Homo sapiens: one gene and its partners. The protein of the gene in region 3 interacts with the protein of the main gene of each other region in a pairwise test. Each region holds a gene or a part of one and is shown on either strand. Other genes may lie near its edges.

Region 1 (6,309 bases), on a different chromosome or scaffold from region 3:
CCCCTGGAGGCTCCAGAAGAAACATAGCCTGCTGAGAAAATGCCAACCTCCAGAACCGTAGGAGAGTCAGCGTGTGTGTGTGTGCATGTGAGCGTGTGTGTGCCTGTGTGTGCATGTGTGTTTGTGTGTGTGCATTGCATGTGTATGCCTTTGTGTGCATGTGTGCAAGTGTGTGCATGTGTTTGTGTGCTCATGTGTGCATGTATGCATGCACGCGTTTGTATGTGTATGTGTGTTTGCATGCTTGTGTACCTGCGTGTGTGTGCATGTGCGTGTGCATGTGTGTGCGCATGTGTATGTGCACGTGTTTGTGTGTGTGCATGCTCGTGTGTGCCTGTCTTTGTATGCATATGTGCATGTGTGTATGTGCCTGTGTGTGTGTGTGTGTGTGTGTGTGTGTAAAGTTTGTGTTCTTTCCATGACCCCCAGGTTTGTGGTCATTGGTTACAGCAACCACAGAGACATAGTAACATGAATGTTGACAGCACGGAGCAGCAACCCAGTTTTGACCTGGTCGATGGTTTTCTGGGACCATTTTATTGACTATTACACCTGTTTTAGCCCATGTGGATATGGCTAAAGAGTGATGGACCCAGAAAAAGAAAAAACGATTGGGAATTTAATGATTAGACCATGGAAAATGAAGTGGTTAGATCCTTCGTGTGTGGTGAGTCTTTAATTCCTGGAAGTTAGAGTCCCGGGCAGTTGTGTCCCCAGCTGCAGACACTCGGTGTACATGCTGCAGGGCGGCATCCTCACCCAGCCACCTGCCCTGTGCTCCCCGCAGCTGGGCTGGTGGACGATGGGTCCACAGATGGGAGTTACAAAGGCGAAAGCCGGAGGGAAATATTCCGGGATATAAAAGTGCGTCTCGTGCTTCTACAAATCACATTGGGTGAGACTAAGACGCCTCTGGAAACAGCAGCATCTCCCAGCCTCTGCACATGGTTTCTGCCTCTCCACTCTGAGGTTATGACAACATCACCGTGGCTCTCAGTTGCCTGAGATCCAGTTCCTCCAGTTAAATGCTGCGTTCGCCCCGTGGGTCAGGGTCTTCACCGGTGGGTTCACCAACTCCCATTTTCCTTCCTCTTTATTTTCTTCACAGAAGCACATGCCCAGGGAAGGGATCTGGAACAGAGTTTTAAATCACTTGTTAATATCTTATAGCAAGTCCATCAATTTCAGACTAGCTCCAAAGCCAACTGTCAGGCACACCTCTACTTTGGAGGGTCTGCGACTGCCCAGGCTGGCACTGCCACCATTGAATGGCACCAACATCTGCCCTGGCGGTGCCCCGTGGGGGATGTCCCCTAGCCAGGGGACACTGGGTAATTCCGGAGACATTTCTGATTGTCACAACTGAGGATGGAGGTGCTGCCGACACCTAGCAGGTAGAGGTCCTACAAGGTGGTACATCCTACAATGAGTAGAACAGCCCCCACCACAAAGGTCTGCAGGCTGAGGTGGAGATTGCCATCCACCACTTAAGGAGTGACTCATATTCTCATATTCAGCATCACAAAAAGACACAGACATTGAGTTTTCAGACCCAAAAGAAAAGCACAAAGTGAACCTTTAGACCTCCATCCCTTCATCTGTGAAATGGATGTGTGAGAACAGAGCTTTGTGGTGAAGCCTTTTTTGTTTTTGTCTTTTCTTTTCTTTCTTTCCTTCCTCTTTCTAATGTCTAGAAATTCCTCAGGCAGATGAAATTTACAAAAATGCCAACTGGCAGGGGGGTCTGAGTGAGGCTGGTGTTGACCCTAGGGTGATTCTTTCCTCACGCTTGCAGAGGCTGTGGGCGAGGGGCGGTGATGGGCTGGTCGGGGAGGGTCCTGAGTGCTCCCTTTCCAGCTGCCCTGATTTGGGGGCCCATCATTTGGTAGAGCCCCCCCTTTGTATTTTCTGATATGCATGAGCAAGTCCAGCTTATTTTGGGGTAGGGGCAGGGTGAACGCCACGTGACCAGCATAAGAAAGTCCAGGAGTTTGGAAGTTCAAGATTGGCATCTATGGAAGGGGGTGAAGGGTCCAAGGAGTGGGTGGAGCTTTGGCCACAAAGGCTCATGGGTTTGAGGAACTGTCAGCAGCTGGTGTGTGCAGTGCTGCCACCCTTGGTTACGTGGGCCCCCAGGAGCGCCTGGGGCTGGAGGCTTGGTATGTGTATATGGGACTGTGGGAAGCGGGGCAGGGACAGGAGGAATGCATCAGAGCGCATGTGTGGGAGACCCATTTGCAGAAGCAAGAGCAACATTTTGGGAGCAGGTGGTGCCGGGGCTGCCCCGGACAGTCCCCAGGAAAATCCATGCAGACCTCTACCAGTGTGGCCCAGGGGGGTTGAGCTGCCCTATTTGGACAATGCTCACCTGGTGGCTCAAGAATCCAGGGCGCTCGGAAATGTCTGGATCATAATTGGGACACACCACCCTGGAGACATTTTGCAGGGGAAGCATGTTTCTACTCAGGTGCAGAGGAAAATGGAGCAAGAAAGGGAGATTCGGGTGTCTGATGCCTAATTGCTGAGTGACAATGACCCACGGCAGGCATGCTCTTCATGTGCGTAACCTCTCATCTGGCTGCTGAGGCAGGCGTAGCTAGAGAGCTAAGCCCTCCTGCAGGCACCTGGCTGGTGTCACTGGGCTGGGCCCGGGAGTTGGGCTCCTCTGAAGCCCCTGACCTCTTGGGGGGACTCAGCAACCCCCACTGCTGCCCACAACTTATGGCAAACAAGCTGTGGCCAGTGTGGTCCTGTGGCAGTGCTATGTGAAGAAACCAGGTCAGGGCCTCAAGCACCTCCGATGACAGGCATTGTCTATGCTGCACGTGCTGCCTGGGCACTGACCAGTGGACTGATGAATTTCATAAAAAGGTCAGGACTGTGGTGAGTCCAGCCTTGAGTAGATCTGCAGGGAAGGGCTGGGACTGGGGTGGGATCTGCACTCCTGAGTTTGCCTGCCTCAATTCACCCATGGACTGGACATCACCCTCTGGCTTTGCTGAGTGATAATCAAGGTTGTCCAAGATGTCACGTGTGCGTTATCCTCTGTTTGTCATTCACAAGGCCCTTGCCAGAGCCTGAGCACTCTGGCAGCTACAACCAGCTCAAGCTTCTTCCATGCTGGGTGACTCCAAGGGCAAGAGGATCAAGGGGCTCCTTTTCATCCATCAGCCGCCCTGCCCCAGGTCCCCAGAAGAGGCCAGAATCGAGTCCCACAGTCGTTTCTTCCCTCCTCATCTAAACTGCTTACTCCTTCCTGGACCGTCTGTTTTTCTACGAGAGCTGCAAGGGGTCATGGCATGAGCTGACTGGTAAAAAGTTGGCAAGTGGCCAATGATGATGAGGTTGACTGACCTATCCACCAGCCCCAGCCCGAAGTCACCCTTCGCATAAGAGCCGGTGGGCACAGTCTCCGGGGGCACGTGGATCCTGGTGGCCCTGGGTCAGCCGGACACTTGTTTTCATTCCGAGAAGTGGATGAGATAAACCTGTGTCTTCGGGATGCTTGATTTTGTGGCCCAAAGAGCCAAGAGTGGGCGCGTACCTTTCTCACGAGTTGGGCAAAATCCCCACATTCCCGGGGCGGCAGCCCGAGCAGTGGCCGCGTGCAGGAGTCCAGAGTGGAGCCGTGACTCACAATTAGGATGACACCCGCTGTGGAAAACAAGAACACCTCCAGGTCAAAGCAGCCCCAGAGAGCACCTTTTATTAGACTGGGGTCCCCAAAGTGGTGGGGGGCAGAGCTATCTCAGAGTGCCCCGAAGCCTGGCGAGACCCCCGGGCTAGAAGTAGTGTGGCTGGTAACCGCTCAGTGATGCCTGCGTCCCACCCTCGCTCATGGATTCCTCTGCACGCAGCAGCTGCCCACCAGCCTCAGGGAGGCCTAGGAAGTGAGCTGAGCCACCCCCTGTGGTCGCTGGCTGCCTGGGCCCCGTCAGCCACAGACTGGGATGTAGCGGTGGCTGACGCCCAAGCCAGACCTGATTCACTTTAGAAAGGTCAGCCGGTTATTTTGTCACACGAGCCTGCTACGACTCCTGCTTTAGATAAGAACACCTGGAGACCACAGGCCGAGTGGGTCTCCCTCAGGAGACACGCTTGTCCCTGCCAGCTCAGGGGAAGGCGTGGGAAGTCAGCGCTTCTGTGCATGCTTCATCCAGGACAAAGCAACACGGGAGGGTTAGGAGACCCGTGTGATGGGTCAGGGAAGGGGGCGCCACCTGGAAGTTGGTTGTTCTTTCTCTCTCTGTCTCTTTTGTTTCCCAGGAAGCTGACTCAAATCCCTTGGACATGGGTGGATTGTGTGACCCTGCTGGCCTGGGTCCCATCAGCATTCAGTCCCAGGATGGGGGGTTCCAGGGCCTGGGCGGCAGGGGAGTGTGTGTCTGTGCACCCGGTTACTGCACCAGCAGCAGCAGTGATGAAAACTTTGTTGCTGGAGAATGGTGGGGGGCGGGCAGGGGAAGTGGGGGCATTCATAGGTTCAGAAAATCGGCCAATTTCCATCTCAGAGATCATTCCCCTCCCATCAGCACTCAGTCCCAGGATGGGGGGTCCCAGGGCCTGGGCGGCAGGGGAGTGTGTGTCTGTGCACCCGGTTACTGCAGCAGCAGCAGCAGTGATGAAAACTTTGTTGCTGGAGAATGGGGGCGGGGGCAGGCAGGAGAAGTAGGGGCATTCATAGGTTCAGAAAATTGGCCAATTTCCATCTCAGAGATAATTCCCCAAGCCCCAGGGGCTGTTCATACTGAGGATGGTGAGGCACTTACTGTCCTGTGGACAGGTGTTGACGATTTGCACCATGCTCGCCGTGCACCTGTCCATGTACTCCTGGTAGCTCTCGGCCGGCATGAGGGCGGACAGGGGAAACGCGGGCCTGGAAGGATGAGAAGGAGAGGCTGCTGCCCTGGCACTTTCGTAGGGATTAGGAAGGCTCAGCTGCAGTTAGCTGGGGAAGGAGAACGTTCTTCCAGGATGGCTCTGCCTCAAGGCAGGCTCATGGTCAACAGGCAGGCTCCAGTTTTGTGCTGAAAACTGGCAAAGCACTGACAGTCAATCTCCAGCACACATTCTTACTCAACACCAGGAGGGCTCTGTGATGGCAGAGTCAGACATGGGTGGAGAATGACAAAGACTCTCTCCTTGACTAAACTCCAGTCCAGCTCCTCTGAACCTTCTTCTCAATGAGGTCTTGACCCTTGGGCTTCTGTGTCTGTTCTTGCAGAGTGAGTTTAGCAAGAACCTCCTACCTTCGACATCTGATCAAGTTCCTTATCCTCTACCACCCCCCAGGTGATGTCTGATCACCTTGGCCTGCCTTCAGCAAGAGTCTCCATTTAGGTCAGTTTAGCAAGAATGACCCACCTTCTCAGGAATTTTCCATCCACTGACCCCCACCCTGCTCTGTGGCTATAACTCCCCTCTTTTCCTTGTATTAGGAGTTGAGCCCCACCTCTCTCCCCTGCTGCAAAACCCCACTGCAGTGGTCCCTCTTGAATAAAGTCTTTCTTACCATTTTAACAGTGTCATGAAATTTTTCTTTAACAATAACTGGAAAAGCCCCAGTGGCAGAGAACTTTAGAACAGCATACCTGTAATCAGTGTCAATGTTGAAATTTGCCTCTTTCAGCTCTTCCAGGCTCATGAGGGTTGGGGTGGTTTTGCCAGCTTCCCATTTTGTCCATTCAAAGATTCCAGGTTCCACTCGTATCTTGATTTTTTTCTCCAGTTTGAGTTCTGGATTCAACAGAATACAAGTGTTTATCATCCTCAACATCCACCCTGACTTTGCATAAATAAGTCTCCTTTTAGATCTCAGACCGTCACACACACGTCTAAATCATGCCTTTTAAACAGTGTGATTTTCTTCTTGGCAAATACCGTTCTGTGATTAGGCATAGCTGTGCTATTTCTGAAGTCAAAACTGACGAGCAGTGGGAAGGTATCAGAGGAGTGATGGCCCCCTGTGTGCCAGGAAGGGCCAGAGTCTTCCAGGAGCTGGTGAGTGTCCCAGGCAGCAGGCTTAGGCTGGGGCTCACCTGATCACCCAGCACAGCTCCACCGTGAAACCAGCCCACCGGCTGCATCCTCCAACATGGCAGATCCAATGATCAATGGACAAGATGTGACCCATCATGAAGAATGTTGGCCTCATGAGGCACTTTCCTGATAAACACTTACACAGACGGGGCAAGAGGTGAAGAATGGAAGGAGCCATCTTCTGGAATATTCTGACTCCCTGCAACTCACATTTCCCAGGCATTTTATATTTTGATTAAAGGAAGAGCCATAAAGTAAGGCCATCTCTTT
Region 2 (7,185 bases), on a different chromosome or scaffold from region 3:
GATCATTAAGATGTAGTGTGAGAAAGGAAGGTTCTCAGCAATCTTGGGCCATGGGAACAAACATTAATGTCTAATATTTGCCAGATACTGTTTAGGCTCTTCTAGAGTGCAAAGAAAGGTAATCTTTGCCTTCAAGGCCACCCTGGCCTTTTTTTTTTTTTTTTTTTTTTTTTGAGATGGAGTTCGCTCTTGTTGCCCAGGCTGAAGTACAATGGCGTGATCTCAGCTCACTGCAACCTCTGCCTCCTGGGTTCAAGTGATTCTCCTGCCTCAGCCTCCTGAGTAGCTGGGATTACAGGCATGCACCACCACGTCCGGCTAATTTTGTATTTTTAGTAGAGACAGGGTTTCTCCATATTGGCCAGGCTGGTCTCGAACTCCCGACCTCAGGTGATCCGTCCACCTCAGCCTCCCAAAGTGCTGGGATTACAGGTGTAATCCCACTGCGAGCCACAAGCCACCGCACCCGGCCCACCCTGGCCTTCTTTACATTCACACCTTAAGGTGTGTGTACTTGCTATTTCCTTGCTCTTCTCAAAACTGGCTCCTTCTTTGCATTCAGGTGTTAGCTCAAATGTCACCTCGGAGAGAACTTTCCTGACTGTCTTTCATACACCTCAAACCAGTCTGTCACAGCCCTGTTTCATTTTCCTCATAGCATTTATCAGTGTATGAAACTATACCGTTCATCTGTCTGGTTCTTCCCTCTAAAATGTGAGTTCCATGACAGAAGTAAACTAATAAATGACTTCTACTGCAAAAATGCAGGTATATGGGGAAAGAGACCTCTAATCTCGTTTAAGTTGTCAGGAAAAGCCTCTCTAAAGTAGTGTAGAAGGCTGAGAATGAATAAAGGAAGGTGGGGAGAAAAAAAATGAGGATTCCTAGCAGAGGAACAATGTTGAAAAGCCAGGAGATGAAAGATAGCATGGCACATTCAAATAAACGAAGTTCTGTACAGCTAAGGCACAGAGTTAGAAAGGAAGAGGAAAAAGAGGAAACTGAAGATATAAGCACAGGTCAAATCACACAACACTATGAAGGATTTCAGCCGTTAACCTAAGGGTAATTAGAATTCTTTAAAGATTTCTTTTTTTTTGCTTCGTTTTTAGACGGAGTTTTGCTCTTGTTGCCCAGGCTGGAGTGCAATGGTGCGATCTTGGCTCATTGCAACCTCCGCCTCCCGGGTTCAAGCAATTCTCCTGCCTCAGCCTCCCGAGTAGCTGGGATTACAGGCATGCACCACCAAGCCTGCCTACTTTTGTATTTTTAGTAGAGACAGGGTTTCTCCATGTTGGTCAGGCTGGTCTCGAACTCCCGACCTCAGGTGATCGACCTGCCACGGCCTCCCAAAGTGCTGGGATTACAGGCATGAGCCATCGCGCCCGGCTGAAGATTTTAAGGACAGCCAGCCTTAGTGTAGTCCCTGTAGTCCTAGCTACAAGGGAGGCTGAGGTGGAAGGCTCACTGGAGCCCAGCCAACATAGTGAGACCCTATCTTGAAAGAAGAAAAGGAAGGAAAGGAAGGAAGAGATTTTTTTTTTTTTTTGAGACGGAGTCTCGCACTGTTGCCCAGGCTGGAGTGCAGTGGCGCGATCTCGGCTCACTGCAAGCTCCGCCTCCCGGGTTCACGCCATTCTCCTGCCTCAGCCTCCCGAGTAGCTGGGACCAAAGGCACCTGCCACCATGCCCGGCTAATTTTTTTTCTTTTTATTTTTAGTAGAGACGGGGTTTCACCGTGTTAGCCAGGATGGTCTCGATCTCCTGACCTCGTGATCCGCCCGCCTCGGCCTCCCAAAGTGCTGGGATTACAGGCGTGAGCCCCTGCGCCCGGCCGGAAGGCAGAAATTTTAAGAAGGCAAGTGATATGATGAGATTTGCACTTGTATGAAATCACTCGGAAAGCAACATGAAGAATGGGCTAGAGCAGAGCAAGAGGAAGGACAATATAACAGATTACGATACCTTGGTCCAGGCAGAAAACAATGGCAACCAAGCTTAGGGTGACAGAGATGTAGAACACCAGATAGATTCAAAAGATATTTAGAATGTAGAAATGTAGGGACTAAGGGAAAGGGAGGATTCAAAATCACTCCCTAGGCTTCTGCCCTGGCAAATCTGTTGAGACAAGGAATAAAGAATAAAGAAGCAGGTGGGCATGATAACTTCTACATTGAACTACTTACACTCTTATGCAATTCACAAATAAATAATAAGAATGAGGAATGATGCTGACAACCACAGGACTGTGGTTCCCTATCCAAAGCCAACTGTGGCTCACAATGCAAGATAGTAAACAGATTCTAAATGAACGCTCTCAAACTACAGAATTACTCTGTTTTTAGATAGGTCTATTTGGAGGTGTCTTGTCAGTTTCTCATCGCTGCTCAAAAACTCAGGACACTCTAAGGACCAGGAAAAAGCCTACTCCTACTTGAAGAGGCAGTCCAGCATCACTCTGCTGCGAAGCCTACTTGCCAGTCTCAGATAGACTGGGGTGTTCCCTCCTCTCTGAATCCATTGCTCCTGAGACAAACTCCAACACAGCAAAACTCATACAGTAGTTTTATTTTCATGCGTCTGTCTTCCTTGGGCCATGAACTCCCCAGGGCAGGGCAGCTTCTTTCACCACGGTATGCCCAGCACCTAGCATAGTGGCCGGCACGGAGCTGATACTCAGTAAAAAGACGTGTGTGAATCAATTAACAAACGAATGCCTCCTCCGGACTCCTAAATCCTGAAAAAAAACCCCACCACCAGGCCTCGGGGCCACGACGTCCATACCCACTCACACACACCAGACTCGCCCGAGCTCACCTGGGTCACGAACTCCGCATTGATTTGGGACACCGTAGGGGCCACGATCTTCTTGGGCTGCGCAGGGGCTGCCATGGCAGCACTCTTCCCTCCACTCCAGTGGAAACTAAAGGACCGCTCTGGGCAGCGGCAACCCTGGTCCACTTCCCTTAAGTTACTGCCGGGGCGCTTAACTCCGCGCCGCACAAACGCTCCGGGCCGGATATCCTCAGCCTTCAGAGTCCCGTAGGGAACCCGTACAACAGCCCAAGCGTTCCTCGGGAAGCGGAATGGCGTGTAGCCGGAAGTTCATGCAGGCGTTGGGGCTGAGCTAGCGAGCCAAGAGCTTTGACCTCCTCTGTACACGCCCTCTAGCGGGCGGCAGAGAGAAGACACCTCGCTGGCGGGATTAGGAGGGCAAGGGAGGGACCCGGTGGATGGTGTTGGGTGGGGTTTCTCGTGGTTAGTGAAGAGTGCCGTGTGCGGTGAATGGGGATTTAGTTTTTTTTCAACCCTAAAGAAAAAACAAAACAAAACAAAAAAAACAGCCTGGGAATATGGGCTGGGTTTTAACTGCCCTTAACAGTGTTTTAGTTTAGTTTTGTTTTTTTTGAGACGGAGTTTCGCTCTTGTTGCCCAGGCTGCAATGCAATGGTGCAATCTCGGCTCACAGCAACCTCTGCCTCCCGGGTTCAAGCGATTCTCCTGCCTCAGCCTCCCGTGTTGTTGGGATTACAGGCATGCGCCACCATGCACAGCTAATTTTTGTATTTTTAGTAGACACAGGGTTTCTCCGTATTGGTCAGGCTGGTCTCGAACTCACCAACTTTAGGTAATCCGCCTGCCTCAGGGTCCCAAAGTGCAGGGATTACAGGCCTTAACAGTTTTATGGAGGTAAAAATTGACATACAATAACCCAGCCAGGCGCGGTAGTCACGCCTGTAATCCCAGCGTTTTGGGAGGCTGAAGCTGGCCGATTGCCTGAGGTCAGGAGTTTGAGACCAGCCTGGCTAACATGGTGAAAACCCATCTCTACTAAAAAACAAAATTTAGCCGGGCGTGGTGGCGCGCGCCTGTAGTTCCAGCTACTCGGATTCAGGAGAATAATCACTTGAAGCTGGGAGGCGGAGGTTGCAGTGAGCCGAGATTGCGCCATTGCACTCCAGCTTGGTGACAGAGCGAGACTAGCCTCAAAAAATAAAAATAAAATAATAATAAAAATAATTCACATACAATAACCCACACATATTTAGGTTGTAAAATTTGATGCGTTTTGACATGAACATACATTTGTGAAACTATTGCCAAAATCATAATGAGCATATCAAAGCCTCTAAAAGTTTCCTCGTGAACTTTTGCTATCTGTGCCTTTCACTGTTCCCACCCACTTTTCAGGCAACCACTGATCTGCTTTCTGTCACTATAGTTTGCTTTTCATGGAATTTTATATAAATGAAATAATACAGTGCATGCCTTCTTTCACTCAACGAAATGATTTTGAGATGGATTCATGTTGTTGCATGTATCAGTAGTTCATTCCTTTTTTATTGCTTAACATTCGTTCCATTTTACTGATATACCACAGTTTGATAAACTATTCATCTGCTGATAGACATTTGAGTTGTTCCAAGTTCTCAGTTATTACAAATAAAGCCACTATGAGCATTTGTGTATAAGTCTTCATGTGGACATATACTTCCTTTGCTCTTAAATACTTAGGAGTGAAATATTTGGGTTATACGATAGGTGTGTTTGTTTGTTTGTTGTTTGTTTGAGATGGAGTCTTGCTCTGTCGCCCGGGCTGGAGTGCAATGGCGTGATCTCGGATCACTGCAACCTCTGCCTCCTGGGATCAAGAGATTCTCCTGCCTCAGGCTCCTGAGTAGCTGGGATTACAGGCAACGCGCCATCACACCTGACTAGTTTTTGTATTTTTAGTAGAGACGGGGTTTCACCATGTTGGTCAGGCTGGTCTTGAACTCCTAAGCTCGTGATCTGCCCACTTTGACCTCCCAAAGTGCTGGGATTACAGGCATAAGCCACTGCACCCGGCAAGTATATGTTTAAGTTTTTAGAAACTGCCATCTTTCTAAAGTAGTACTATTTTACATTCACATCAGGAGCATATAATTCTAGTTTGTTCTCCACCTCGTCAACACTTAATATGGACAATTTTTTTTAAATTTTTAAGTTCAAGGGCACATGTGCAGGATGGGCAGGTTTGTTACATAGGTAAAGGTGTGTCATAGGGGTTCATTGTACAAATTATTTCATCACTCAGGTATTAAGCCCAGTATACATTAGTTATTTTTTCTGATCCTCTCCCTCCACCCACCCAACCCTCTGGAAGGCCCCAGTGTGCATTGTTCCCCTCTATGTGAATATGGACAATCTTTTAATTTTAGTCTTTATTTATTTATTTATATATTCATTTTGAGATGGAGTCTCACTCTGTCGCCCAGGTTGGAGTGCAGTGGCCCGATCCCAGCACACTGCAACCTCCACCTCCCGAGTTCAAGCAATTCTCCTGTCTCAGCCACCCGAGTAGCTGGGATTACAGGCACACGCCACCACACCCAGCTAATTTTTGTATTTTTAGTAGAGACGGGGTTTCGCAATGTTGGCCAGGCTGGTCTCGAACTCCTGACCTCAAGTGATCCACCTGCCTCGGCCTCCCAAAGTGCTGGGATTACAGGCGTGAGCCACCGGGGGCGCCCAGCCCCTAATTTTAGTCATTTTAATAGGTGTGTGATATATTTCGTTGTGACTTTCATTTACATTTCCCTAATGACTAATTGAGCATCTCTTCATGTGCTTATTTGCTATTCATATATCTTCTTTGGGGAAGCCTCTATTCATATTTTTTGCCCTTTTTTAAATTGAATAACTTGGTTTCTTACTACTGAGTTTCAATGCACACCCCTACCATTCCCAAATCCATACGTAAATTAAACATGTGTCTCTAGTTAAACTCTCCCTGGATGAACACATGCAAGAAACTGATAACACTATTGTTTCCAAGAAGAAGGAACTGTGGGGAGGGGACAACAGGAAGGGGAGAAAAGTTATTTCATATTTTATACCTTTTTGTAACTTTAGAATTTTGTAATATGTATGACATGTTCAAAAATAAACAGTGTAGGCCGGGTGCAGTGGCTCACGCCTGTAATCCCAGCACTTTGGGAGGCCAAGGCGGGCAGATCACAAGGTCAGGAGACTGAGACCATCCTGGCTAACAATCCTGTCTCTACTAAAAATACAAAAAATTAGGCGGGTGTGGTGGCGGGCGCCTGTAGTCCCAGCTGCTCGGAAGTCTGAGGCGGGAGAATCACTCGAACTGGGGAGGCGGAGGTTGCGGTGAGCTGAGATCAGGCCACTGCACTCCAGCCTGGGCAACAGAGCAAGACTCCATCTCAAAAAAATAAAAATTTAAAAAAACAGTAAAAAAATAAACAGTGTGGGCCAGGCGCAGTGGCTCACGCCTGTAATCCCAGCACTTTGGGAGGCCGAGGCAGGTGGATCATCTTGAGGTCAGGAGTTCAAGACCAGCCTGGCCAACATGGTGAAACCCCATCTCTACTAAAAATACAAAAACTTGCTGGGCATGGTGGTGTGCACCTGTAATCCCAGCTACTCGGGAGGCTGAGGCAGGAGAATCACTTGAACCCAGAAGGCGGAGGTTGCAGTGAGCAGAGATTGCACCATTGCACTCCAGCCTGGGCAACAAGAGTGAAACTCCATCTCAAAACAACAACAACAACAACAACAACAACAAAAATAAAAACAAAAATAGACAGTGTGAACGTGAAAGCAAAAGCCTGTAGGAATGGAGATTAAATGTGAAGTCCTTTTTCCCCCTATGTTATTGTGTAAAGTTTAGAGTGCTAGTGATTAAAATTTGCATCATCACAATTTTAAATGTAACAGATTTTGCATGTATAATATCTATTGACATTTTACTTACAAACACACTATAAAACAGGAAAAATAAGATTCTGATGGCTTTTATGATGAATCTTGACATATAACATTTTGACTAGCAAAAACCACAGGGACTGTATTTCTATACTATGCTATAGTTACAGCACAGATAAAGCCACCGAAGCAGGTCATGCAGGGCTATGTCAGGAGTCAACAATAAGGCTTGATGTGTTGAAAGCCTTGAAAGCTAGGGAGAGGAAGCTCTCTTCCACAATAACAATTGTGGAAGACAATGGGAAACCACTGATTGTAAATCTATTTTTGGAAGATGACTTCTGAGTAGTATGTCAAATGGGTTGGTGCAGGTACTATGGGGATGGGAATATCAGCTAGGAGACTACCGCAAATCTAAAGCTAAAATAAAAAGGACTAAATGTGGGTTCTGACAGTCAAAATGAAAAGGAAGGA
Region 3 (7,026 bases):
GGAGAGCTTAGCCTGCCAAGGGGAGGAAACAAGCCGGCTTTGTTTTGTCTCACACACTTCCCCGTCTTCTCTCCCAGCCCAGTTTTAAGGGCCGGAAGGGCAGTGGGGCCCCCTCCTGGTGGGATACAGCAGGGCAGGAGCCCCTGCAACCCCAGGTACAGGTCTTGAGTCCCTGGACACCGGCTTTTGTGCCTGAGAGGGGGTGGGAACGCTTCTCTGTAGGAAATGGCTTCAGTCCAGGATCCAGGGGTAGGGGAACCTCGACCATGGGGTGGGTTGCTCCTGCCAGGGGGTACTAGGGGCAAGGCCCCAGGGTGGAGCCAGTTCTGGGAGCTGTGTCCAGCTAGGCATCTGTGACCCCAAATGGCATGAATAAAAGGGCAGGTTGCTAAGAGCCAGGGGAGGGCATGGGGCAGGGAGACCAGGTTGGCCCAGACAGGACAGAGGTGCTCCAGGGACAGGGTGCTGGAGTGAAGCCAGGTGGAGCGGTGGAGCTGTGGAGCCTTTGAAACATCCTGAGGGCCCAGGCCTGCCACAGGGTGACCTGGGCAGAGGAGAAGCCCAGAGGACAGCAAGGTGCCCAAATGAGGTCAGGGCTTCTGGGGTGGAGGGACGGGGGGCACAGTGGCGGCGGGGGAAGGAACGTTGAGTCCCAGGTGAGCCTGCCTTTCCAGGCCAAGCCCTTGGAGTGAGGGTGCTCCTGCCTGGGGGGCGAGAAGTGGAAGTGGCTCACAGTCCAAGGTGACAAATGAACCCATCACCGGTCAGCTACCATCCCTGTGAAGGAGCCAGGGTGGAAGGCCCTGTCCATGTCCTCCCTCCCTCCCTAAGCCCTGAGGAAGGTAACAGCCCCACCTGTGAGGCCCCAGCCTGGAAGCAGAGTAGGAGAGCCGGGCTTCTTAGAGGTGGGCAGTGGGTGGTGGTGGGCAGTACTGGTAAGTATGCTTGGGTGGCTGGGACTTGCCCTGGAACTGGGGCTGAAATTCAAACGGGGAGGCCCAGGCCTTTGTTCCCAAGACCCTGTGAATGCTCCCTGTTCCCCCAAAAACAGAGGGGCTCTGCAAGGACAGGCTTCATGGGATTTCTCTTTCAGAGTGGGCCTGCAGTGAAAGACCAGCTCAGCCCCTTCTGACCATGTGACCCCAGAAACTTCAGCCCCAGCAGAAAGGTTGTGAGGCTGGAGGAAGGCACTGCCCACGGCACATCCAGTCCCAGCGGGGTCTGGGGGCACCCCTCAGTGCCAGGCACTGTCTGCCCTGCAAGGGGAGCCCAGGCACTGCAGTGGAGGCGCAGGGGCAGAGCCCAGACCCCACTCAGCTCCACTCTCACCCCTGCCACAAGCAAAGCTGCTGAGAAAGGGAGCCAGGCAGCCTCGCCTCTGGCGCCCCCCAATCTGATGCACCCAGACTCCCCTCAATGCAGGTGCTAGCCCCTCAGCTCCTGGCAGCCTTCCTCCCCTGCAGAACCAGGCTCAGCCATTCCACAGGTAGCCTCCCTGCCCAAAAGGAAGCCTGGCAGGTGAGATGCTGGCTCCACCACCAGCATCAAGCCCTGCTTGTCTCAGTCTCAGCAGAGGAAACCCTGTCCAGGCCCCAACCCTGCCTCTTGGGTCACCGTGGCACTGCTGTAAGGCCTGCTCTTGCCCTATGGCCAGGCCTGCCTGGAAAGTGCTTAGTGCAGAGGGCAGGGAGGCATGGGGGAGGCCTCTCACTGGCCCAGGGACTGCACTGAGCCATGCCTGGCCTGCCCCTGGGAGCTAGACCACAAACCGACGCAGCCCTGCTCGTGGGTCCAAGAGCTGCTTACTTCTGGGGGCACCCATGCTGAGGGGGCTGCGAGGCAGAGCTGGGCTGACACAGACGGACTGGGATTGGCTAAGGAAGATCACCTGGCCCCTCCAGCCCTAGCCCTGGCTCTTTTGTCACTGTGATACCTCTGAGCCACATGCCCAGAGGACAATGCTGCTTCCCACATCCCCCTACCCCACTTTTGCCTTCTAACCTTGGTGCCCAGCTCAGGGTGAGGCAGTTAAGGGTCCAGGGAATAAAATGGGCCAGGCCAAGGACCGCCAGGGCCTCTCCTTTTTTGTCTGGGAGACTCGATTCCATAGACTGGGACCCACGCTCGGCTGGCAGGATTCCTGCTTGTGGGGTAAGGCTGGGTGCCTTGCGGTGCCCTCTCATCCCTGAGCCTCAAGGATGCAAGCTTCTACTTGGACCTTAAATGTCCACTTTCTCATCTCATTCCCCCACCTGCCAGACTTCTGAGTGCTGGCACTGAAGGATTAGCTAATTTTGCAACCTGAGTGGCAAAACACTGGGCCCTGAGCCAGCAGACAGTCCCCACCTAGCTGTGGGCCGTGACCCCACCTAGCTGTGGGCCGTGACCCCATGCTGTGCTGATGAAAATGAGAAGCTACACAGAAAGTCAGAAAACTCAGAGGTCCTGATAAGGCAGTGAGCCAGACCCCAGGGAGATGTCTGTGAGTGCTGCGGGGGCAGTGAAGGCAGGAAGCAGGTTCCCCGCCTGGAAGGGGCTGGGGCTTCCCTGGAGCTGCGCTCAGGCACCAAGTCTGTGGGTCTCATGGCTCTAGCTCTGCTGCTCTGTGCAGAGCCCCAGGATGACCGGGAAGAACCCAGGGCACTGGACACATCCCTGGAAAGCAGCAACCTGCTGCCACAGGTAAAGCAAACCCATGAGAGGAAACGGTCAGAGCCAGCAGGCATGGGACAGGGAGGACTGCTGGCCCCTCCTACTGTGGCCCACACCGGCGGGTTCAGGCCAGTCTTGGAATGTGAAGATGGTGGAGGGCCAGCTGCTGGCTGGCAGGGTGGCCCGCCAGGGTATCCTGCTTCCCCTTCCTCAAGGAGAGCCTCCATCCCGCAGCCAGGCCACAGGATGCAGAGCTCCAGAGCTTCACCCGGCTGCTGTAGTTGCCGGTACCCAGGAGGGCTGGCTCTGGAGGGCTGGGCTTGGCAGGCTGGGGAGAGCAAGGAGGTGGGGAACCCCCAGTCTGCCGGCCCGGCCCCTGGTCAGCACCCGCAGCCCCAGCCTTCTCCGATGTCCTTGCTGTTCAGCTGGATGTGGTCGGGGCTCTTCTCGCTGAACAAGGGGCCCCCGTGCCGCATGATGAGCTCCGTGGCCACCCTCAGGAAGGCCTCCTCCACGTTGCTCGAGTCCTTGGCAGACGTCTCAATGGCACACAGGATGTCATAGTGCTCAGCCAGGCTCTGTGCCTCAGCCAAGGAGACCTCCCGAAGCTCGCTGAGGTCTGACTTGTTCCCTGCGGAGGAAAGCCGGGGCAGCATGAGGCCATGGGGGCTGGGCAAGCCCAGTCCCACCTGGGAGGGTCACGCTGACAGCCCCATGCCACTCCCTTCCACCACTATAAATGGACACCCCTGGCATGGTCATCTGTCTTTCTTTAAAAAACCTTTTTTAGGCCGGGTGCAGTGGCTCACGCCTGTAATCCCAACACTTTGGGAAGCTAAGGCAGGAAGACTGCTTGAGCCCAGGAATTCAAGACCAGCCTGGGCAACACAGTGAGACCCCGTCTCAATTTACCCAGATCCTCCTAGATGGTATGAGATGACTTCATTACATTCCAAACAATCTGTTAAATTGCTCCTTGACCCAATTTCTAGAATAATTTTTTAAAAGTCTCTACATGGTTGACTTTTGTAATGTGGTTATAAGGAAGACAAAAAAAAAAAGAGTCTGGGCCAAGCGCAGTGGCTCATGCTTGTAATCCCAGCATTTGGGAAGGCCGAGGTGGGTGGATCACCTGAGGTTGGAAGTTCAAGACCAGCCTGGCCAACATGATGAAACCCCGTCTCTACTTAAAAAAAATACAAAAAATTAGCTAGGCGTGGTGGCGGGGGCCTGTAATCCCAGCTACTCGGGTGCCTGAGGCAGGAGTGGCAAGCGGAGGTTGCAGTGAGCCGAGATTGTGCCACTGTACTCCAGCCTGGGCAACAAGAGCGAAACTCCGTCATAAAAAAAAAAAAAAAAAAAAAGTCTGTAAAGATCTAAAATTTCCTTGGTAACCTTAATTGATGTAGCAACCAGTTTCAAAGTGTGAAACTTATTTGGATCCTGATCTCAACAAACTGGAAAAAATAAAACACATATGAATTTTATGGGCAATTATAAATCTGAATACAGACTGGCTATTTTATATTATTAAGGAAATGTCAGTATTTTTAGATGAGAAAATAATATTGCTGTTTTTAAGTGTTTAAATATTTTGTAGGTTCATGCTGGAATACTGCCAGGTGAAATGGTTTGATGTGAATTTGTCTCAATAATCCGAGGGAGGGGAGGTGACATGGTACAGATGAGAGGAGGTTGGACTTCAGTTGCTAATTGCTGAAGCAGGGTAATGGGTACCTGGGGGCTCATTATTATACTATTCTAAGCCAGATATAGTGGCTCACACCTGTAATTCCAACTACTTGGAGGTTGAGGCAGGAGGATTGCTTGAGGCCAGGAGTTCAAGATCAGCCTGGGCAACATAGCAGGACTGCATCTCTAAAAATATATGTATGTATATAAGTATGCATAAATAAATAGATAAAATACTATTTTCATAGCTGTATAAAATGTTCTATAGGCCGGGCGCGGTGGCTCACGCCTGTAATCCCAGCACTTTGGGAGGCTGAGGCGGGTGGATCACGAGGTCAGGAAATCGAGACCATCCTGGCTAACATGGTGAAACCCCGTCTCTACTAAAAATACAAAAAATTAGCCAGGCATGGTGGCGGGCGCCTGTGGTCCCAGCTACTCGGGAGGCTGAGGCAGGAGAATGGTGTGAACCCAGGAGGCAGAGCTTGCCATGAGCCGAGATCGCGCCACTGCACTCCAGTCTGGGCGACAGGGTGAGACTCTGTCTCAAAAAAAAAAAAAAGTTCTATAATAGAATGTTTTTTAATTAATTATTTTTTGGAAGACAGAGTCTTACTCTGTCGCATAGGCTGGAGGACAGTGGCACGATCTCGGCTCACTACAATCTCCGCCTCCCAGGTTCAAGCGATTCTCCTACCTTGGCCTCCGCAGTAGCTGGGATTACAGGTGTGTGCCACCATGCCTGGCTAATTTTTGTATTTTTAGTAGAGATGGGGTTTCACCATGTTGCCCAGGCTGGTCTTGAACTCCTGAACTCAGGCAATCCACCCACCTCAGCCTCTCAGTGTTAGGATTACAGGTGTGAGCCACCATGCCAGGCTGGAATGTTTTTCAGAAATGTCCTGGATAAATGGGAATTGGTGGCTGGGTGTGGTGGCTCACACCTGTAATCCCAGCACTTTTAGAGGTCGAGACGGGTGGATCACGAGGTCAGGAGATCGAGACCATCCTGGCCAACATGGTGAAACCCAGTCTCTACTAAAAATACAAAAGTTAGCCAGGTGTGGTGGTGCGTGCCTGTAGTCCCAGCTACTCAGGAGGCTGAGGCAGGAGAATTGCTTGAACCCGGGAGGCGGAGGTTGCAGTAAGCCAAGATCGTGCCACTGCACTCCAGCCTGGCGACAGAGCGAGACTCCGTCCCCCACCCCCAGCAAGAAAAGGTGGGGAAATGGTTAGGCTACGTGAGGAAAGCTCTGTTCATGCCAAGCACTCCATGTCCTAGTCTGAACAGGCTGTGGAAGGCAGGCCACATGGAACCAGGCACCACCCTCTTCCTGGCTGGAGTCAGGTCCAGGCCCTGTCTGTACATTTGAGTCAGAAGAATCAACCTGTTGGCCCAGCTACTCGGGAGGCTGAAGCAGGAGAATCGCTTGAACCAGGGAGACAGAGGTTGCAGTGGTTTTGCAGATCTTGCAGAACCAAGATCACGCCACGGCACTCCAGCCTGGGTGACTGAGTAAGACTCTGTCTCAAAAAAAAGAATCAACCTGTTGGGGTGAGGACCCCAGGGATAACATAAGAGCTAAAGAGCTTCTCCAGTCCAGGTCTGGGAAGGTTATATAGAAGGAAAACAAAGGTAAACAGCATCCTTCCACAGCAGCAGTTCTCAAAGTGGGATCCTTGGACCAGCAAGGTGGGTGTCACTTGGGAATTTGTTAGAAACGCACATTCATGGGCCCCACCCAGCCCGCCTGGATCAGATGCTCTGGAGGTTGAGGCCCTGCAGCTGCACTTGAAGAAGACTTCTGTGGGATTCTGAGGCACGGAAGCCATCAAGTGTCCCTGCTCTGTGTGCGGCACAACAGAGAAAGCCACAGACTTGAGGTCAGCAGAAGCAAACTCAAAGCCTACATGTGTATGCTCACAGGCCATGTGGACCCGGATAAATCACTGCACTTTTCTGAGCCTAGCCCCAGCCCCTGTCAAATGAGGAGAAGCCGGGGTACAAGAGCTAAATCTTGACACATGTGAAGAACAGCAGAGCAAACTTCAGCTCTCTTTCTTCTTTCCTCTAATTCCAATTTTGAATATAACTTTCTTTTTTTTTTTTTTTTTTTTTTTTTTTTGAGACGAATCTTGCTCTGTCACCCAGGTTGGAGTGCAGTGGCGTGATCTCAGCTCACTGCAAGCTCCGCCTCCCAGGTTCATGCCATTCTCCTGCCTCAGCCTCCCCAGCAGCTGGGACTACAGGCGCCTGCCACCACAACCGGCTAATTTTTTTTTATTTTTTTAGTAGAGACGAGGTTTCACTGTGTTAGCCAGGATGATCTCGATCTCCTGACCTTGTGATCCGCCCGCCTCAGCCTCCCAAAGTGCTGGGACTACAGGCGTGAGCCACCGTGCCCGGCCTTGAATGTAACTTTCTAAGTGATTAGCAGGATCAGGATTTGCAAAACCATGGCTCAAACTCTGGCTGGGACTCCCTCTGAACTCAGGGTTACACTGTGTTTAAAAAGCAGAGGGAGGCATGGACAGGCAGAGTGATGGGATTTGTGGTCCCGAGGAATCCCCAACTCACCGATCAGCAGCTGCACAATGTTGGAGCCCGCATACTTCCTCACATCCTCAATCCAGTGAGGCACCGACAGGAAGGAGCTCCTCTTGGTGATGTCGTAGGCAAGG
Region 4 (7,026 bases), on a different chromosome or scaffold from region 3:
TCTCCAGGGGCAGTGGGGAGAACCTGCAACGTCACCCCAGACCCCCAGTGCCCACCTGGCTCGTGTTATGGAGAAGGTGCGTGTCATGAGGGTACAGAGCCCCTGACTCCTGCGGGGAATACAGCCGGATGTACTTCCTCCCCATCACCTGGGGAGAGAGACCCTGACAGTCAGCTGGTGGCCTCACTCCACTGCTGCCCCAAGCCCACTCTGGCCTCTGTGCCCTTCCACATGCTGCTCCCTGGGCCCAGCCTGCCCTTCCCCACCACACACATGCTTATGGTTCCACGTGTATGTTTTTCTTTCTTTTTTATTTTTTAGAGACAGGGTCTCACTCGGTCATCCAGGCTGGAGTGCAGTGGTACGATCATGGCTCACTGCAGTCTCGACCTCCTGGCCTCCAGAGATCCTCCTGCCCCAGCCTCCCCAGTAGTTGGGACTACAGGTATGCCCCACCACACCCAGCTGATTTTTGTATTTTTATTTTTGGTAGAGATTAGGTTTTAATATGTTGCCCAGGCTGGTCTTGAACTCCTGGCCTCAAGTGATCCTCCTGACTCGGTCTCCCAAAGTGCTGGGATTATAGGTGTGAACTACCAAACTTGGCCTAAGGTATGTTTTTCTTCCAAATACATTTTGAAAAATAACTTCATTTTTGGAGCCCACAATTATTAGGCGCTTGTCTGTGCCAGGCACTGCTTAAGTGCTTTATGTGTGTTAACTGGTTTAATCCTCTCTGAGGTGGTTTATCTTCACTCTCATTTTGCAGGTGAGGAAACTGAAGCACAGAGAGATTAAATGAGCTGCCCAAGCTCACACAGCTGAGGTGTGGCAGGGCTGCTGTCTGCGCCAGGCACGCTGGCTCCCGAAGCCCAGCTCTTAGCCCACTCCTGGGCTGCCTCTCTGGACTGGTCTGCTGGGGTAGGAGAACGTTCTCCTTTACTAAACCTCTCTTTGCCTGCGAAAACCAGGGTGGTCTTACAGCAGTAGACAGAGGTGCCTCCCCTTGCAGCAAATCCATCTGCTCCTCTGACTGGGCCTCAGGAAAAAAACCTCCCAGTGACTGAGAAAACTCCTCCCCCAACCTGCCACCTCCTATTTGGAAGCTGGTCTGGATCGCATGGGTAGCAGGCGGGGAGGGGCAGAGGCACCGGGCACCCACACCAGCACTCGCTCCCTCTCCCGAGGGCTCCCCTGTGAGGGATCTTGGGAGGAGCACATGCAGGAGGAGCCGCTTCTGGAAGCACCGACTGCAGAGGCCTTCCTGGGCCTGGGGCCGTTTGTGGGTTTGCTTTATATTTTTGTCCTCATCCCCTTCAGTGCTTCTTGTTTCTTTTTAAGAGCCCGGTGTTTAAAGGCAGAGAATGTGGCCGGCCAGGTGTCTGGGCCAGGAGGAGTTAGAAGGCCACTATTCCAGCTGCAGCTCCAACCTGCACTAGGAAGTTTTGCTGGGGATCCTGATGTAGTGGGGAGATGGTTCCCTGGGGACCAAACCAGGCATTGATGGTGATTTCCTCCTCCTCCCCATCGCCCAGGCTGCAGTAGTCGGGGATGCTGATGTCCTGCTTCAACTCCGGGATCTGTGGGCGGCAGAGCAGACATGAGATGTGGGGATCCGGCTGGGGACACCGCAGCCCGGAGGCCAACGAAGAGTCAGAAACACATACCTATATCCATTATGTGTGTGTGTGTTTGAGACAGGGTCTGGCTCTGTTTCTCAGGCTGGAGTGCAGTGGCGTGATCTCAGCTCACTGCAGCCTCTGCCTCCTGGGCTCAAGTGATCCCCCCACCTCAGCCTCCTTACTAGCTGGGACTACAAGCATGCACCACACCCGGCTAATTTTTTTTTAATTTTTGTTTTTGTAGAGACAGGGTTTCGCCATGTTGCATAGGCTGCTCTCAAAATCCTAGACTTAATTGATCCACCCGCCTCGGCCTCCCAAAGTACTGGGATTACAGGCGTGAGCCACCGCACCCGGCCCTTGCCGTCCTAGTTTTAAAAGCCAGGGTAGGCACAGAGGATTTGTTGCCATACCTGGCAGAAACAGGCTGGGCAGAGAAGAGAAACTGCCTGACGAGAAAGGCAGGTGTGGGCCTGGGTCTGTGCTCTGAGCTTTATATGATGCAGTAAGGGTGGCGCGGCTCCCCATGGCCTCTGACAGAGTTATATGCCACACATCAAGCGATCTTGGATGTTCACGGTGGGGCAGGGCCGCAGTGGCCTGGCCTCCTTTATTTATTTATTGTAATTTTTTTTTTCAAAGACAGTCTTGTTCTGTCACCCAGTCCGGAGTGCAGTGGTACCATCATGGCTCACTGTAGCCTCAACCTGCAGAGCTTAAGCGATCCTCCTGCCTCAGCCTCCCAAATTGCTGGGACCACAGGAGCATGCCACCGTGCCTGGCTAATTTTATTTTTGTAGAGATGGGGTCTTGCTATGTTGTCCAGGCTGGTCCTGCTTGGTCTCCCAAAGTGCTGGGACTACAGGTATGAGCCACTGCACATGGCCCTGGCCTCCTTTACACAAAGCCAGGGTCTCAGAGTGAAAACACACTCACTCTAAGTCCACTTCCTGTCCAGACCCTTAGCAGGCACCTCAGTTACCTCCGGGGTTGAACCCACCAGAGCAGGCCACCAGCCCACACCCCCCAGGCCACCGAGAACCCCAGGGTTCTTCACGGGACCCTGGATGGACCTGGCGGCATTTTTCAAGCTTGAGAGGCATGAAAACAGGGTTGCCAGAGGGACACAGGGCTTTTTAAGAGTCACTGCTCCGCAGCCTGAAGGCACCTGCAGGTGGACACTACCATTCCTTCGGGAGCAGTGACGGTAACTTCAGGCTGCTGGCTCAGAAACCAGTGTGTACCAGGAAAAGCTGGAATGTTCTCCCTGCAGGGAGCTTGGTCCCAGACACTGCTATTCAGACCTTTAAGAACCTGTCTCAAATCAGCTGTGCAGAAACGCAGCCGCGCCTGCTGCTTAGGACTGAAGTACAAGTTCGCAAGCTGAGGTCCCTCCCAGGGCTGTGAGGGGTTCCTCCCAAAGGTAACCCGACGCTGCTGCTTTTGACCAGAACTGGCCCTGTGGAATCTGAGCAGAAACTATGATTGGTCCCTGATGACATCATCAGGATTTCTGAAAGGTGATTGGCTGACCAGATCATGTCATCAGAATCACTGGCCGAGGATGCAGAGACCCGAAGGGAATCAGTGCTCCCGAGATGTGACTAATAACTGAGGCAGGCTTAAACTGATGGCCAAAATCTTCTAGAACACGGGGTCCCTGGGAGAAAAGTCAATAAGAGGTTCTGGGACAAGAATTTGGTAGGAGTCCCTGAGCGTCCTGTAGGTAGAGAAGGTTCTAGAACACTGTCCTTGCCACACGGCATGATAACACCTGGGCATGGGCTGCTGGGACTTCTCCAGGGTCCTCTCCACAGCATGGTAGACACTCAGCTCTGGGACCCAAGGTAAACACCCAGGCGGCCCTCCATTACCCGAAACATCTTTCAAGTCCTGGCTCATCTTGAAAGTCACTGTGAACTTGGCCTTCTACTCCTAAATATAACTCCTCCTGTCCTACAAAGTATGAAACAGCTGCTCCAGGACAGGGAGCCAAGGTTAACCATGGCTTCCAGGGTCCCCAGCCCACACTGAGGCCATGCCCCCAGGATGACCAGGGTCAGGAGAAAGGTGGGTCTCGGGATCACACAGTAGGGACCTGATCAATTAGAATCCCCCTTTCCTTCACTTAGCAAGTGACATGGACAGGACGCAGGATGCACAGGTCCTAATAGGGAGGCCTGGGGAAGAGAAACCGCCAGCGTCCTTTAATGTCGGCATGAAGGCTCCTGGCACAGCCCCTACTGGCCCTGGGTCCCCCATCGAGACAGAGAAGCAGTCCTGGCTTCAGCAGTAGATACAGCAGCTGATCAGCATCCCAGGGCCCCACTGCAAAGGCTACAGAGGTGCGGCCCCAGCCCACCCCTGGCTGTAGCCCTGACCCTGACTGACTCGAGTCTTCCACGTTCGGGACACGCACCTGGCCCTATCCTTGAATCCTGCCAAGGGCTGCCTTCCTGGGCACTCCTGGCAGACACCACACCAGCCAGGTCCCTCCTGGGCGCCCCAGCTCCATCTATTTAGTGTTTTGGGGTCCTGAATCTGGGCATCTTCCCCGATCTTCCCTCCCTCCCCCACACATCCACCCACGTCCAGGGCTCGGTGGTTCACACCGGTCTTGAACTGCTCCACCTGCCAGCATCACCTCTCCTTGCACCACAGCAATAGCCCAGCCAGCCACCCGCTCCGACAGCTGCTCCCTTCATCTCTGAATAGCAGCCCCTACAATCCTCGGGGCACTGGCGACCCCCCAGTGTTTCCTGTCACTTTAGGAAAATGGCTCCTCATCACCCACGTCCTGTCACCTTCCTAGCCTCACCTGCTGCCTCCCTCCTACTCACGCTCACTGCTCCAGCCGCACTGAGCCCAGGAGGGGAGGAGAGGGGAAGGTGAGACGGTGAGGGGCAGAGGTGCGTGGCCTCAGACTTACCTGGTCAAAGAGCTGGTGCTGAGCAAGGTACCCGACGTCCCTTGGCTAATCCACCGGGGAAAACCAGAGGCAACACAGAAAGCCCAGTTAGTCATGACAGATGCCCTCCTGCTGCTGCTGTCCAGCTGGCCCCAGCTGCAGCACCCGTCACCCTTCCACTCCATCCTGAGTGGTCCTCTCCAACCCTTAGAGGCCCTGGGGCAGCTTCAAAGAACCTCTCCAGCACCGGGGTACCCAGTTTGTAAAGCACTGATCTCATCCATCTGATTGGCAAACATTTTCATAAAATGGCAACAAACAGTGCAGGCAAAGATGTAAGAAAATGGACACTTGTGTTAATTGCTGGTGAAAGTATAAGTGATCTAACTTTTGGGAAAAATAAATTGTCCTATCCTGTCCTGTCGTAATTTTGACAGGGCCTGGTTCTATTGTCCAAGCTGGAATGCAGTGGCCTGATCTTGGCTCACTGCAACCTCTGCCTCCTGGGCTCAAGCAATTTGCCCCACCTCAGCCTCTTGAGTAGCTGGGATTACAGGCACGTACCACTATACCCAGCTAATTTTTATATTTTTTATAGAGACAGGGTTTCACTATGTTTCCCAGGCTGGTCTTGAACTCCTGGTTTCAAGTGATCCGCCTGCCTCAGCCTCCCAAAGTGCTGGGATTACAGGTGTGAGCCACCATGCCTGGCTGCTATTAAAAATTTAAATACACATACTCTAGACTTAGCTGTCCAACTTTTGGAACAGGCTAAAACCCACTGAATTATACTCCCCTGCCCATTAAAAAGGACCTGACATGAATCCCTCATGTCTGCTGGCTAAGCAGCCTGCCTTCCTCGCTGCGGTCGTCCCTCCGACCACAGACTTACAGCCTGGCTCCTCCAAAACCTCCCATTACAACACATGGGGGGTTATTTGCCTAAATGTACTATGCTCTCTGCCTTGCAAGTACTAGGGGAAAGCAGTCCCCATGATGTACCTCATTCACGATGTATTTGCTGATGAACTCGTTGACCGTCATGAGGGTCTGGGACCATTCCTCATCTGTGTACCTCGAACCAACTTCCACTGGGACAGTTCGGCAGCCAGCGATCTCCTGGATATACTCCAAACTAGCAGAAAGACACACATTGGCATCGTCACTGCTAATATCTGTTGGGCATAGTACTAAGTGTGCTTTGCATGTGGTCCCCTTTCATCCTCGGAAAACCTCACGTGCAGAGACAAGGACTGTCATCCCCAGCTTCACTGATGAGGAACCGGCATGGAGAGGTGGGGCTCCCTGCTCAAGGCTGTGTGGCTCATACACAGTGCTGTGCAGCTTTGCAGACAGGGCCGGTAAGTCTGGTTGGCTGGGCTGCTCTAGTTCCCTGCTTGCCAACAGCCTCCTCACTTCTTTCTTTGCTCATTTTGTCACTAAGCTGAGAAACCTTTGAACAAATAGCGGACAGCGTGGCAGGTGGCAGTCTCCTGGACTCTGCCCTCTAGCCTGGGACTGATTCCAGGCCTCATCAGTTACAGGCCAGGGGATCTGAGGCAGGTTACTGAACCCGAGTCCTTGATCCCCATTTACAGAATGGGGGTGATGACAACACCTGTCCTAGTGCCAGGTACGTAGTAAAATGCTTAATGAAGCCTTGCTGTGAGGAGAGCTCCTGCAATGAGAATTCCTCCACATGTGTCAGCGGGTACCATTCCCTCCGCGAAACCACAAAACAGGCGGACTCCATCTACCTTCCTGGAGAGATGCCTCCTTATTTCCAAACTCATGCAGAGCCGCGGCATGACAGCCACGCTCCAGCTGCCTGATCTGATCTCCCCATCATGATTCTGAGAAAGGACTAGAAACAAACACAAGAGACCACAGAATCCCTCAGAGAGAGAGGGGCTGTCTCTTGGGTTATTTCTGCTCTTAGCTTCAGGGCCCTGAGATGGTCTGAAATTGCTAGGATCCTGTAAAATTGCATAACAGAAACATTCTAGGACTGCCACTTAGGGACTCATTAAAAAACCGCTTAAGGCGAGCAAGGTAGAAGGTAAGAATCCCATAACCTGCGGCATAAATTCAGAGCACCTTACTTTTCACTCTTTTTTAACCCCTTGGCAATCAGTCAAGGGCTGCTAGTGAAGCATCTACAAGGTTGCATTTCCCTGGGGATGGTCGGGAGGAATTCAGGGAGCCCTGGGGAACGCTAAAATGGGAAAAGGGACCTCACCTCCCTCAGCGACCACCCACCTCCACTTCTGCATGCACGGCCAGTGGTCAGCCACGCCTTTCAGGATCACGGGCCTCCCTGGAACCAAAAACTGCTCCCTGAAATGCTGGAGGGACGGACGGTGCAGCCGGGGGACTGTTTTTTCTAACTTCACATCTGGAATCAAACCATGGTCCGCCCTTGCTTTCTGTTTAAAATCAAAACAGAACAAAATAGCAACCACCTCAGGAAGTCGACATTTGAGGTATTCCACCAGG

What was found.
Region 1: the proteins of ISY1-RAB43 (region 3) and UBASH3A interact in binary tests that used the Homo sapiens proteins (3 or more experiments, as listed by UniProt).
Region 2: the proteins of ISY1-RAB43 (region 3) and AQR interact in binary tests that used the Homo sapiens proteins (3 or more experiments, as listed by UniProt).
Region 4: the proteins of ISY1-RAB43 (region 3) and KDM8 interact in binary tests that used the Homo sapiens proteins (3 or more experiments, as listed by UniProt).

What each region holds. Positions count from the first base shown.
Region 1 is NC_000021.9:42,441,879-42,448,187, reverse strand, and holds the end of UBASH3A (ubiquitin-associated and SH3 domain-containing protein A), read right to left. Parts: intron 5,737-6,309; coding exon 5,592-5,736; intron 5,035-5,591; coding exon of another isoform or gene 4,986-5,034; exon of another isoform or gene 4,883-4,985; intron 4,877-4,882; coding exon 4,770-4,876; intron 3,655-4,769; coding exon 3,545-3,654; coding exon of another isoform or gene 3,355-3,544; intron 1,132-3,354; coding exon 994-1,131; 3' UTR 504-993; downstream 1-503. UniProt on the Homo sapiens protein: Interferes with CBL-mediated down-regulation and degradation of receptor-type tyrosine kinases. Promotes accumulation of activated target receptors, such as T-cell receptors, EGFR and PDGFRB, on the cell surface.
Region 2 is NC_000015.10:34,966,722-34,973,906, forward strand, and holds the start of AQR (RNA helicase aquarius), read right to left. Parts: upstream 3,022-7,185; 5' UTR 2,893-3,021; coding exon 2,818-2,892; intron 1-2,817.
Region 3 is NC_000003.12:129,088,064-129,095,089, forward strand, and holds part of ISY1-RAB43 (ISY1-RAB43 protein), read right to left. Parts: coding exon 6,962-7,026; coding exon of another isoform or gene 6,923-6,961; intron 4,531-6,922; coding exon of another isoform or gene 4,451-4,530; exon of another isoform or gene 4,437-4,450; intron 3,284-4,436; coding exon of another isoform or gene 3,033-3,283; 3' UTR 1-3,032. Other genes in the region: RAB43 (ras-related protein Rab-43), read right to left, coding at 3,033-3,283, 6,923-7,026. UniProt on the Homo sapiens protein: Component of the spliceosome C complex required for the selective processing of microRNAs during embryonic stem cell differentiation. Required for the biogenesis of all miRNAs from the pri-miR-17-92 primary transcript except miR-92a.
Region 4 is NC_000016.10:27,213,515-27,220,540, reverse strand, and holds part of KDM8 (bifunctional peptidase and arginyl-hydroxylase JMJD5), read right to left. Parts: intron 6,957-7,026; coding exon 6,790-6,956; intron 5,939-6,789; exon of another isoform or gene 5,769-5,938; intron 5,666-5,768; coding exon 5,533-5,665; intron 4,597-5,532; coding exon 4,552-4,596; intron 1,581-4,551; coding exon 1,431-1,580; intron 149-1,430; coding exon 56-148; intron 1-55. UniProt on the Homo sapiens protein: Bifunctional enzyme that acts both as an endopeptidase and 2-oxoglutarate-dependent monooxygenase.